Regions from separate parts of the Homo sapiens genome. Here region 1 is linked to region 2. Evidence: fine-mapped expression QTL. A gene starts in region 2. The other region holds a variant in brackets. All regions are shown on one strand. Distances are between the middles of the regions. Region 1 has its middle 31 kb from the start of PCMTD2. Region 2 holds the start of PCMTD2 (protein-L-isoaspartate (D-aspartate) O-methyltransferase domain containing 2).

Region 1 (5,378 bases), 31 kb before region 2:
GCTGGACTCAGGTGAGTATGGGGGTGGGGGCTCCTGCACTTCGACACAGGCAGCGGGAGGGTTTTCTCCCCATTCCCTCTGCACTCCCAACTTGAGCTATACTTTTTAAGAAAGTGATTCACCCTGCCTTTGCCCCCTTCCCCAGAACAGAACACGTTGATCATGGGCGATATTTTTCATTGTGCCAAAAAGTTGCCATGACCGTCATTAAACCTGTTTAACACCAAATAATAAGGAAAATAAAATAAAAAATTCGGGCATGGTGCAGAAACTCACTCCAAATAAATTACCTACCAAAATATATAATGGTGGAAATATTCCAAAATTCAATATTTTGGGATTTATACACAAAAGATAAACAAATTAGAGGCCAAGAGGCTGCCGGAAGGGAAAAACGGGGCCTGGAATGGCCGACGTGAGGAATGAGCTGGGCCTAAAGAGGCCACTGGCAGGCAGGAGCTGGACCTGCCGAAGTGGCCGAAAGGCAGGAGCTTTGGACTGGGGAGGCCACAGTGAGGCGAGAGCTAGCTGGGCGTGGAGAGTCCGCTGTGAGGCCAAGGCCGAGGCCAGGCCCGTGCAGGCCTTCGAGAGGCAGGAGGCCGGGCCTGCAAAGGCCGACTGGAGATCAAGTTCTGCGCCTGAAGAGGCTGCCAAAAGTCAAAAGCGGGGCCTGGGAAGGCCGCCGAGAGCCATGAGCTGGGCTGGGCCGAAAGAGGCCACTGGGAGGCAGGAGGAGCTGGGCCTGGAGAGGCTGCCAAAAGGCAGGAGCTTCGCCTGAGGATGCCACAGTGAGACACCATCTGGGTCTGGAGGGTCCACTGTGAGGCAGAGGCTGGCCTGTAGAGTCCGACAGTAGACAGAAGTTGGGCAAAAGGCTGATTTGAGGAAGTTTTGGGCTTCAACAGTCAGCCACGAGGCAGACACTAGGCCTGGAAATAGCCCGACAGTCATGAGTTGGGCCTAAATGGGCCACTATGAGGGAGGAGCTGTGCCTGTTGAGGCTCCTCCAAAAGGTCATCTGTACACACACAGTAAAAATCTGGGAGTAACTGAAGACAGAGTTGGTAAGTAAAATAAGAAACAGTTATAAGAAATTAAACTATGGTATCCATAGGCACTCAGTAAAAGGTCAGTTGATGTTAGCTGCTACTTTTTTGTTGTTTAGAGACAGGGTCTCACTCTGTCACCCAGGCTGGAGTGCAGAGGCCTGATCATGACTCACTGCAGTCTCAGCCTCCCTGGGCTCAAGTGATCCTCCCACCTCAGCCTCCCAAGTAGCTGGGACTACAGGAACATGCCACCACACTAGGCTAATTCATGTATTTTTCTGTAGGGATGGTGACTCCCTTTGTTTCCAAGGCCTATCGCAAACTCTTGGCCTCAAGCCATCCTCCTGCCTCAGCCTCCCAAAGTGTTGCGATTACCAGTGTGAGCCACCACACCTGGCCAGCTGCTACTTTTATCAATATTATTCTTATTCCACTCAATTAAAAATTATTATTTTCAAGGCTATGCAACAGTATGTATCCTACAGCGTAATTGTAAAAACATATACAGTCGTCGTCCCTCAGTATACAGAATTAGTTCCAGCCCTCCATCTCTGCATATACCAAAATCCATGCTTACTCACGTTTCGCTGTCACCCCTCTAGAATCCACGTATACGAAAATTCCAAATGTTAGTTGGGCATAGTGGCAAGCACCTGTAGTGTCAGCCACGTAGGAGATTGAGATGGGAGGATCGCTTCAGCCTGGAAGGTTGAGGCTGCAGTCAGCTGTGATAGCACTACCACACTCCAGCCTTGGACAAAAGAGGGAGACCCTGTCTCAGAAAAAAAACAAAATAAAACAGGTTAGAAATTGTAATCTAACCCTAAGCCTAACCCTAACCCTAACCACTAAGCCTAACCCCTAACCCCTACCCTAACCCTAACGCTAACCACTAACCCTAACCCCTAACTCCAAACCCTAACCCTAACCCCAAAACCTAACCCTAACCATAACCCCAAACCCAACCCCAACCCGAACCCCGAACCTGAACCCTAACCCTAACCCCAACCCTAACTCCTAACCCTAACCCCTAACCCTAACCCTAACCCTAACCAATAACCCTAACCCTAACCCTAACCCTAACCCCTAAACCCTAACCCTAACCCTAACCCTAACCCTAACCCTAACCCTAACCCTAACCCCTAATCCTAACCCTAACCCTAACCTAACCCTAACCCTAACCCTAACCCTAACCCCTAATCCTAACCCTTACCCTTACCCTAACCCTAACCCTAACCCCTAACCCCTAACCCTAACCCTAACCCTAACCCTACCCTAACCCTAACCCTAACCCTAACCCTAACCCTAACCCCTAATCCTAACCCTTACCCTTACCCTAACCCTAACCCTAACCCCTAACCCCTAACCCTAACCCTACCCTAACCCTAACCCTAACCCTAACCGTAACCCTAACCCTAACCCTAACCCCTAACCCTCACCCTCACCCTCACCCTGACCCCGACCCCTGACCCCGACCCTTGACCCCTGACCCCTGACCCCGACCCCGACCCCGACCCTAACCCCTGACCCTGACCCTAACCCTAACCCTAACCCCTGACCCTGACCCTGACCCTGACCCTGACCCTTAACCCTGACCCTGACCCTGACCCTGACCCTGACCCTA[C/AC]CCTAACCCTAACCCTAACCCTAACCCTAACCCTAAACCCTAACCCCTAACCCTAACCCTAACCCAACCCTAACCCTAACCCTAACCCCAACCCCAACCCCTAACCCCTAACCCTAACCCTAACCCTGATTATTCAGGGCTGCAAACAGAAAGGATTTTGTTCACTGTCGATGCGGCCCCGAGTTGTCCCAAAGCGAGGCTGTGCCCCCAAGGTGTGTGCTGAGAAAGCTGCTCCACCTTTGCGGTGTGCCCCGGGTCTGTGTTAAGCAGAACGCAGCTCTGCCCCCGCAAAGGCACCCCACGCCGGCGCGGGCACAGAGAGGCCCACCGCGCCGGCGCAGGCGCGCACAGGCTGGCGCGACGTGCGGGGGAGGCGCGGCGGATGCGCAGAGAGCACGCTGCCGGGCGGGGGTTGGGTTGGGGTGGCGTGGTGCAGGAGCACAGTCGCACGCCCCTGTGCTGGGGAGGGGAGCGCGGTGCAGGCGCGGAGACGCCCGTCGCAGCGGCGTGGCGCAGAGACGGGAGGAACCTCAATAATTCGAAAAGCCGGGCTCGACCGCCCCCTGCTTGCAGCTGGGCACTACAGGACTGGCTTGGTCACGGTGCTGTGCCAGTGCACCCCCTGCTGGCGACTAGGGCAGCTGCAGGGCTCTGTTGCTTATAGTGGTGGCCAGCGCCCCCTGCTGGCGCCGGGGCAATGCAGGGGCCTCTTGCTCACAGTATAGCGGCGGCACGCCGCCTGGTGGCAGCTAGGGACATTGCAGGGTCCTCTTGCTCACAGTGTGGTGGCAGCACACCCCCCTGCTGGCAGCTGGGGACACTGCCAGGCCCTCTTGCTCAAAGTGTAGTGGCGGCTGGCTCCCCTGCTGGCAGCTGGGGACACTGCCGGGCCCTCTTGCTTGCAGTGCAGTGGGGGCACGCCCTCTTCTGGCACCTGCTGGCACTACAGGAACCTCTCGCTCACAGTGTAGTGGCAGCACGCCCCCTGTTGGCAACCAGGGCACTGCGGGGTCCTCTTGCTCATGGTGTGGTGCCCATATGACACCTGCTGGCAGCTAAGGACACTGCAGGGCCCTGTTGCTCACAGTGTAGTCGTCGTACGCCGCCTGCTGGCAGCTGGAGACACTGCCTGGCCCTCTTGGTGGCAGTGTCGAGGCAGCACGCCACCTGCAGGCAGATGGGGACTAGGCGGGGGTCTCTTGCTCCCAGTGTGACGGTTGGCGTCCCCTACTGGCTGCCTCCTGCACCACTTAAAGTCAGAGCATCAGTTTTTAAGCCCCATCAGTTCTGTAAATTCAACTGAAACGGAGCTAGTACTAGGGAGAGCTGATGTCCCAGTTCTTGTCTAACTTGGAAGAAAGATTTTCACCAAGAGGCAGTACAAAAATGGCAGACAACTTCATTGAAAAGAAATACAGTGTAAAGAGCTCATTGTAGAAAAATAGGGAGGAGTGGGCTGATCGTGCATGAAAACATCCTAGGAGTCCTGTGCAGGGAATTTTATTTTGGACTTCTTCACATTCCTGTCTCTGTCTCAAGTCTCCACCTGTTCTCTTTGTCTGGTTTTCCTGCTACTGCCTTAGGTCCCCGACTTGCCACACTTAGGCTTGTGGGACCTCCTCACTGTTGGTTGAGGTACATGTGTGGTATCAATCCGAATCCACTCTGGCACCAGCCTCCTTCCCGCCATCCCAGGCAGGCTGACAGCGGTCACGTTTGTACCTAGTGTGCCTGCCTATCTCTTTTGAATGTCCTTCTTTGCCCTAATCTGCACTTATGGTGCCAGGTTTCTCTTAAGAATGTCCCCTTTGTCCTTCTTATCAGCATGTAGCTAGCAATATTCTGACATTTTTATTGCAGAGTGAATGATGATTGGGGCATCTTAAGAGGAGTTCTAGGGTGTTTCTTTCTGCATAGGTACCTCTTCTCCCTCCTACTCACAATTGACAAGTGCCCATGCACTCCAGCACTAGAGATGCTACTAATATGTGAATTTTTGGTGGTCCCTCCAGGTGAGCCTTCCCAGACTTTCCCTTTTCTAGGAGCTCCCCTCCTGTTCATGTCTAGCTATATATAAACTCTAACAGAGCCCACTATCCTGTGTCTTTCCAAAAATAGTGAGGGAATGATTAATTGGAAACCATAAGAAGTGATATGCATGTAGATGAAAACTTTACAACTTGCACAAATAACCACTCAAAATCATCCTTACACTAAAAATGCAAAACTATACAATTTCTAGAAGAAACTATAGAAGAAAAGCTATGTGCCTTTGGATTTGGTAATGAATTTTAACAAATGACACAAAAGGTTGATATACACAGAAGAAATGACAATGTGGATTTCTTAATCTTTAAAGTTTATACTCTGGAAGAGACCTTCTTAAGAGAACAAAAAGACAAGCCACATATTGAAGAAAATATTTGCAAAATACAGATCTGAGAAAGAATTTGTATTCAAAATATATAAAAAATTCTTAAAACTAAACAAGTTAAACAGCACAATTAAAAATGCACACAGATCTGAACAGACACCTCACCAAAGAAGATCTACAGATGGCAAGTAAACATACAAAAAGATGCTCAACATACTACAGAACTGAAAACCAGGAGATAGCACAGCTGGTCTATATCTATTAGAACTGCTAAACTCTAAAAAAATCACAAATTGCTGCAAGAAAGACAATAACTCTTTTCATTGCTGGT
Region 2 (5,378 bases):
CTTTAACTTCATATAAAATGGTAATGCTTTACAAAACACCAGATACAAATTGTCAGGGAAAAAGACCACCAGACCTCATGAAGACATTTTCTGAAATGAACACAACCTTTTTAACAACTTGTTATAATTATGATGAAGTTTATACTTGCTTTCCTCCTCACATTCCTCTGGATTTCTAACAGTAGAATGAGGATCGTAAAGAAATACTGTGGGGTGACAAGGGGCCTGGGGCGGATTTCATACACACCCACGTACACAACTGGAGACAGCGGTGGGAGGTTTTCCCAGGAATGAAAATAATCACATAGTTTCTTACAAGTGAACAAAAAGTGTGAAGGGTATAGCTTAACACAAATTCTCTTCTATTTTTATGGTGGAACACTCAATCTTCACACTCAAGATTTTAGAGCTGAATATTAGGTTTTGCAAATCAATAGGATGGTCCAGTCATTAAATTTTCACACCCTTTTTGAATTTTTTGAATTGTTTCGGAGCCCTTGTTAGATTACGGTCCACAGCCAGCTGACTTAGACTTAGATGGAATTAAGTCCTAATGAGGTCAACTTTAATCCTGGATAAGCCACTCAGTTCTGAGGCTGCACCCTAGCCTACCACAGTCATCTTAAAATTTGGGTCAGTGGTTAAAAGCGGAATCATGTGTTTGGATGCTTAAGGGTCTATTTAGGAAAAGAGCTGGAAAATCGCATACCGTCCTCAGTCAAAGCCACCTCTTCACCCAGAAGCCTGTATATAATGTTCCAACATTGTCTCAATGCCACATCTCTAGAAGGTAACCTCAAACTGTATGTTGGATAGGTTTCATTTTCCACTAAGTAACTATCACTTATTTTGAACTCTGCCTTAATTTGAAAGTTCAGACAGCTTTTTAGTAAAAACAAGCACCTTTTTCCAGGTACCACCTGCCAGTCATGGCCTCATTTACACTTCACAACATTAAGAAGCAAATTGGAGCTGGCCGGTTAATTTGTTCATGATCACATAGCCAGTTTGTGAGGAGGGGGCTGCATTCAAACCCAGGACTGTATGGCAAAAGGCCTGTGTTTTTAATACCACACCAGTGCAGCTTTTAAAAATACTCAAGACAGCAACGTTCTTTACCACACAACACACCGGTAACCTTTTGACGATGGGGTAACCCTATCTATACCTATTGCCACTGGTAGGATCCATGTGAATAGCTGTGGGGTCTGATATTTATTACCATCTTTGTCTGGTAATCTAACACTCCCTCGCACTGAAAACCATCGATATGATCAGTCATGATGTCACCAAAAACACCGACAACAAAGCTCTTCGCCAAACCAAATCCTATCATTTTCACCCAGATTCTACAATCTGGTCAAATCCAATTTTTCAAAGTAAAAGTGTAGAATCATTTTTAGAACGCTGCACTCGATGATACTGTGCACATTGTCTGCTGTAATTAATCCTTAATATAATTCACTACTCTGTGGTAACTAGCAACAGTCCATAACAACCTGGCTGCTCCTTACAATGCGAACTGCCAGGGCACATGAAGAACACTTGCTGAGTGGCGACAGGCATGGGAAGGTCTCAGAACTGACACCTGAGTTGTGATTGTGGCTGTGTCAACACAAGCATGAAGCTATGGTAGTGGGGTTTTGGGAGGCGACATACGGAAGATCACATTCCAACTTGGATGTCACTTCTTTAGGGTAATATGGACAAAGTAATTCATTGTGGAAGATGAGTGGGGAAAAGGACCCAAAGCCACATCTCCTTTGGGCAGAATGATCAAACAAACACACAAACAGATTTCTCACCTTGAAAACCAGAACTCTTACAAGCAATGCAAAGGGACTTTTTTCAAATACAGATGGTCTCCGACTTCGGATGGTTCGACTTCAGGTTTAACGATGTGTTTACTGGGATGCGACCCCACCGTAAGCCGGGGAGCACCTATACTTGAAAGGCTGTCACATGTACACTATTAATGGGCCTAACAAAAGCCAGACCAGTGGTACATGTTGGAGACAATGCCTACTAAATACACAGAGAAGCTTTCTAACAAATGAAGTTGCAATGAATGAAAGGAGCTCTTGATAAGCCCAGCCAAGTTCCACTGGAGGTACGAGCTGGGGTGGCGCAGGGAGCAAGGCCCTGGATCGGTCACCTCTGAGGTCTCCTCTCATCACCTGAGTGTAGGGCTCTATTTCCCCCAAGCGTGGCCACAACAATTTCTGAGTTGCTTATAGGCACCTCAACTTCACTCATTCTTGAATGACAGTCTATCAAACGCCCAGATAGGAGCTGTTTAGCCATTCCCTTGAGAAGAAAAATGAAAACTATTCTAGTCACACGAGTAAAGAGGGGGTGGATAAAGAGGGCGTGGATATTTAGGTGACTTATTTGAGGTGCAACGCTGGAGCAAACATTCATTTAGGAGACACGTCCCTCTCACAAAAACAAAACAAAGGCCCGAAGCTCAGGCAAGTTCTCCTTCCTCCAACTAACAAAGATCTCTTTCCATGCGTGAATTGAAGTCCCAGTGCTCTGCTCCAATTCTTACTATCTCCAAGGCACGGGGCGGGGGGGCGCAATTATTTTTTTAAAAAATCCTGTCATCTTCTGAAAGGGTCCAAGGCAGACTTTGTTCTAAACCTTAGCTCTTGGCTTGCCTTGGAACTGCAAACGTTTCCCACTTGGGAAGTCAAAGACAAGCTGCAGGTCTGGACTAACCAGACCCAAGAGTGTGAGTGAGCAACGGGCACCGGGAGAGACCGACGGGAAACCGCGAGCGCTCGGAGAGAGAAACGCGGGACGCCCTGGAGGCCGCTGGGGGGAGGTGAGGGTGCCCGAGGTGGGGAGGAGCGACGCCCCCAGAGGAGAGCTCCGGGCGCAGGGGTGCCGGGGGTGGGGAAGGAGGAGGGAAGGGGCCGAGGGGACACACCACCCGCTCGCCGCAGGCCGGACCGAGGGGCGGCGGCGGCGGCGGCGGCTCTACCTCCAGGCTCGGCCGGCCGACGGGTTCGGACCGCCTGGGCTGCCACCTGCAGCTCCTCGGGCGCGTCCCTCGTGTGTCCGCGGCCGAGCAGCGCCGCTCCAACCTCGGCCGCCGTAAACATCCGCCGCCGCCGCCGCCGCCGCCGCCTCTGCGCCTGCGCACAACGGCCTGACTGCGCATGCGCCGCGGGCCTGGCACTTAAAGGGGTGATGGCGGCGCAGGGCGGGCCCCACTCCCCTGGGCTGCCTGCGTCCGCCCGCCCCGCTGAGAGCTCGCTGAGCCCTAGGCCGGGTCCGAGTCTCGCGGGCGCGCCGTCCGCGCAGTGCTCAGCCAGGACGGACCCCGCACGGGCTGCCTCAGAAGCCCTCCCTAAGGGTCACCTGAGACGCCTTTGCTGACCCACGGCTGGGGGCGTTCCGCATCTCCAGGGTGCCCTGCGGCTGCTGACTCGGGGCCGGCGCTGCCCTCGGGCGGCCTCCCAGCACCAAGCACAGCCGCCCTGGGACCCCCGCCCTGCCACGCGGACGGCCACCCGGCCCTGGGGCCCTCCTACCCAGCCGGCTTTGTGAAATCAGCTGTGAAAGGAAGATATCCTGGGCCCCCAAGATCACTAAGGAAAACTCCAGCAGGAAACTGCTTAGGGCAGGCCTGCTTCCCATTCCATTCAAAGTCACTCCTCTGCTCACTTAGATAGATACATATCTGATTTGCCTCCTTTGAAAAGGCAAATGAGAAACTCAAAAGAATTTAACCGTTGGTGTCTCACCTATCTGTGGCCTGGACGCTCCCTCCCCGCTTGGAGTCTTCCTGCCTTTGCTTCAAGTTGTCCCGTCTTTCCAGACCGAACCGATGTGCTTCTTACATGTATCGATGGATGTATCCTGTCTCCCTAAATGTATAAAACCAAGCTGTGCCCCGACCACCTTGGGCACATGTCAGGACTTCCTGAGGCTGTGTCACGGGCGCGTCCTCACCCTTGGCAAAATAAACTTTGTAAATTAACTGAGACCTGTCTCCCATTTTCTGGGTTCACACAGCCCATTGCCCAAACTTCGCGTGGGGCTTTGCAGATAGGCTGTAGCTGCAGAACCCTTTCTTCAAGCACAGCCATGCAAGCCGCCTCATATGTGCAAGTGCCAGCGTCGCTGGGGCGGACGAGTGGGCCTGGGTCTCCGGTTCCCGCCTCCCTCCTAACTCGGCATTCCTCCCCAGACCCTGGAGCTCCACTTAGGAGCAGAGTTTGAAAACCAAAGGCCGGTGCCTTCACCACGTTATGTGGTCCCAGGGAGACCTCACTTCTCTTGTTGATCCATGGTCCTGGATCCACGGACCTGAGGTGGCCCACCACCTCATGACCTTCATGGGGCTCTCAGTGTCCTTCCACCTGAGAGCTTGTGGTTATTTGTGACTGTTTCAAATTACAGAAGCCCTGGAGTCATCCTTGACTCTCTTCCTACTGCCAGGGGACACGTCCTCCATACATCCCTCCTTGCCCTGTCCCAGCTCCCCTCACCTCTCCCCACCCCTCCCACCATTCCCCTGGGCTCTGGCGAGTGGTCCTCCTAAAACAGGTGATCACATCACTGCTGTCTTCAGACACTCCCTTTGTTCCTGGACCCAACTGAGGGTCGGGCTACTACTTCTCCTGGCCCAATAACAAGATGCAAATGAGCTGGAGAGTAAGAGAGGTTTTATTTCTGTAACCGGTTACAAGGAGAAGGCCTGGAAATTATCACCATACCAACTCAAAATTACAAAGTTTTCCAAAGCTCGTATACCTTCTAAGCTGTATGTCTACATGTAAGTGTGCATTCATCTACAGACATAAGTGATTAACTTCTTTTAATCTATGACTAAGGTTGAGTCCTGAAGACCCTCTTCTGGAGCCTCAGTAAGTTTACTTAATCTAAATGGGTCTAGGTGCTGGGGTGATTACCCTTATCTTGTCTCCTGCTAAATCATAATGATATGGGGAATTCCTTTAGACCCCCATAAACTTGTTTGTGGAGGCCTGGGGAGTTTCTTCAGATCCCTAATACAACTTGTTTAATCCTAAAAAGGGTCCTGTTAAGAGTTCCTTCGTTATCTTGTCATGCTTCAAGGCCCAGGAAGAGCCTAGGCAAAACTCTTGGTGGGCTCTTTGTTACATTCCAACCTTTGTATAAGGGCATTGGCTCAATCAGCTTTTAATGTTTAACCTGGCTACTCAGTCCGTGCTGGGACAGCTGTAATGGAGGCCTGCGTTAGTGAGACCCGGCCTGCCACAACTTCAGACTCTTGCTTGGTTTTCCAAGGTGTCTCCACCATTCCCCTCCACATCAGCTTCCACTACCATCAGCATTCATAACCCTTCACAGGGTATATACTGAGCACTCTACATGGGTTATTTCCA

The links. PIP is the estimated chance that this variant, and not a neighbour inherited with it, causes the effect. A credible set is the group of variants that fine-mapping cannot tell apart.
Region 1: its variant is the best candidate, but not a certain one, in a credible set for the expression of PCMTD2 in monocytes after LPS (Quach 2016, PIP 0.89).

The regions. Positions count from the first base shown.
Region 1 is chr20:64,284,122-64,289,499 of GRCh38, reverse strand. No RefSeq gene overlaps it. Among named protein-coding and RNA genes, the nearest start is that of PCMTD2, 31 kb to the right of the region's middle. RefSeq lists a silencer at 3,153-3,345. The variant C/AC (reference allele first, on the strand shown) is at 2,674.
Region 2 is chr20:64,253,479-64,258,856 of GRCh38, reverse strand. It overlaps PCMTD2 (protein-L-isoaspartate (D-aspartate) O-methyltransferase domain containing 2), which reads right to left and starts at 3,109. Exons shown (of 6, transcript NM_018257.3): 1 at 2,987-3,109.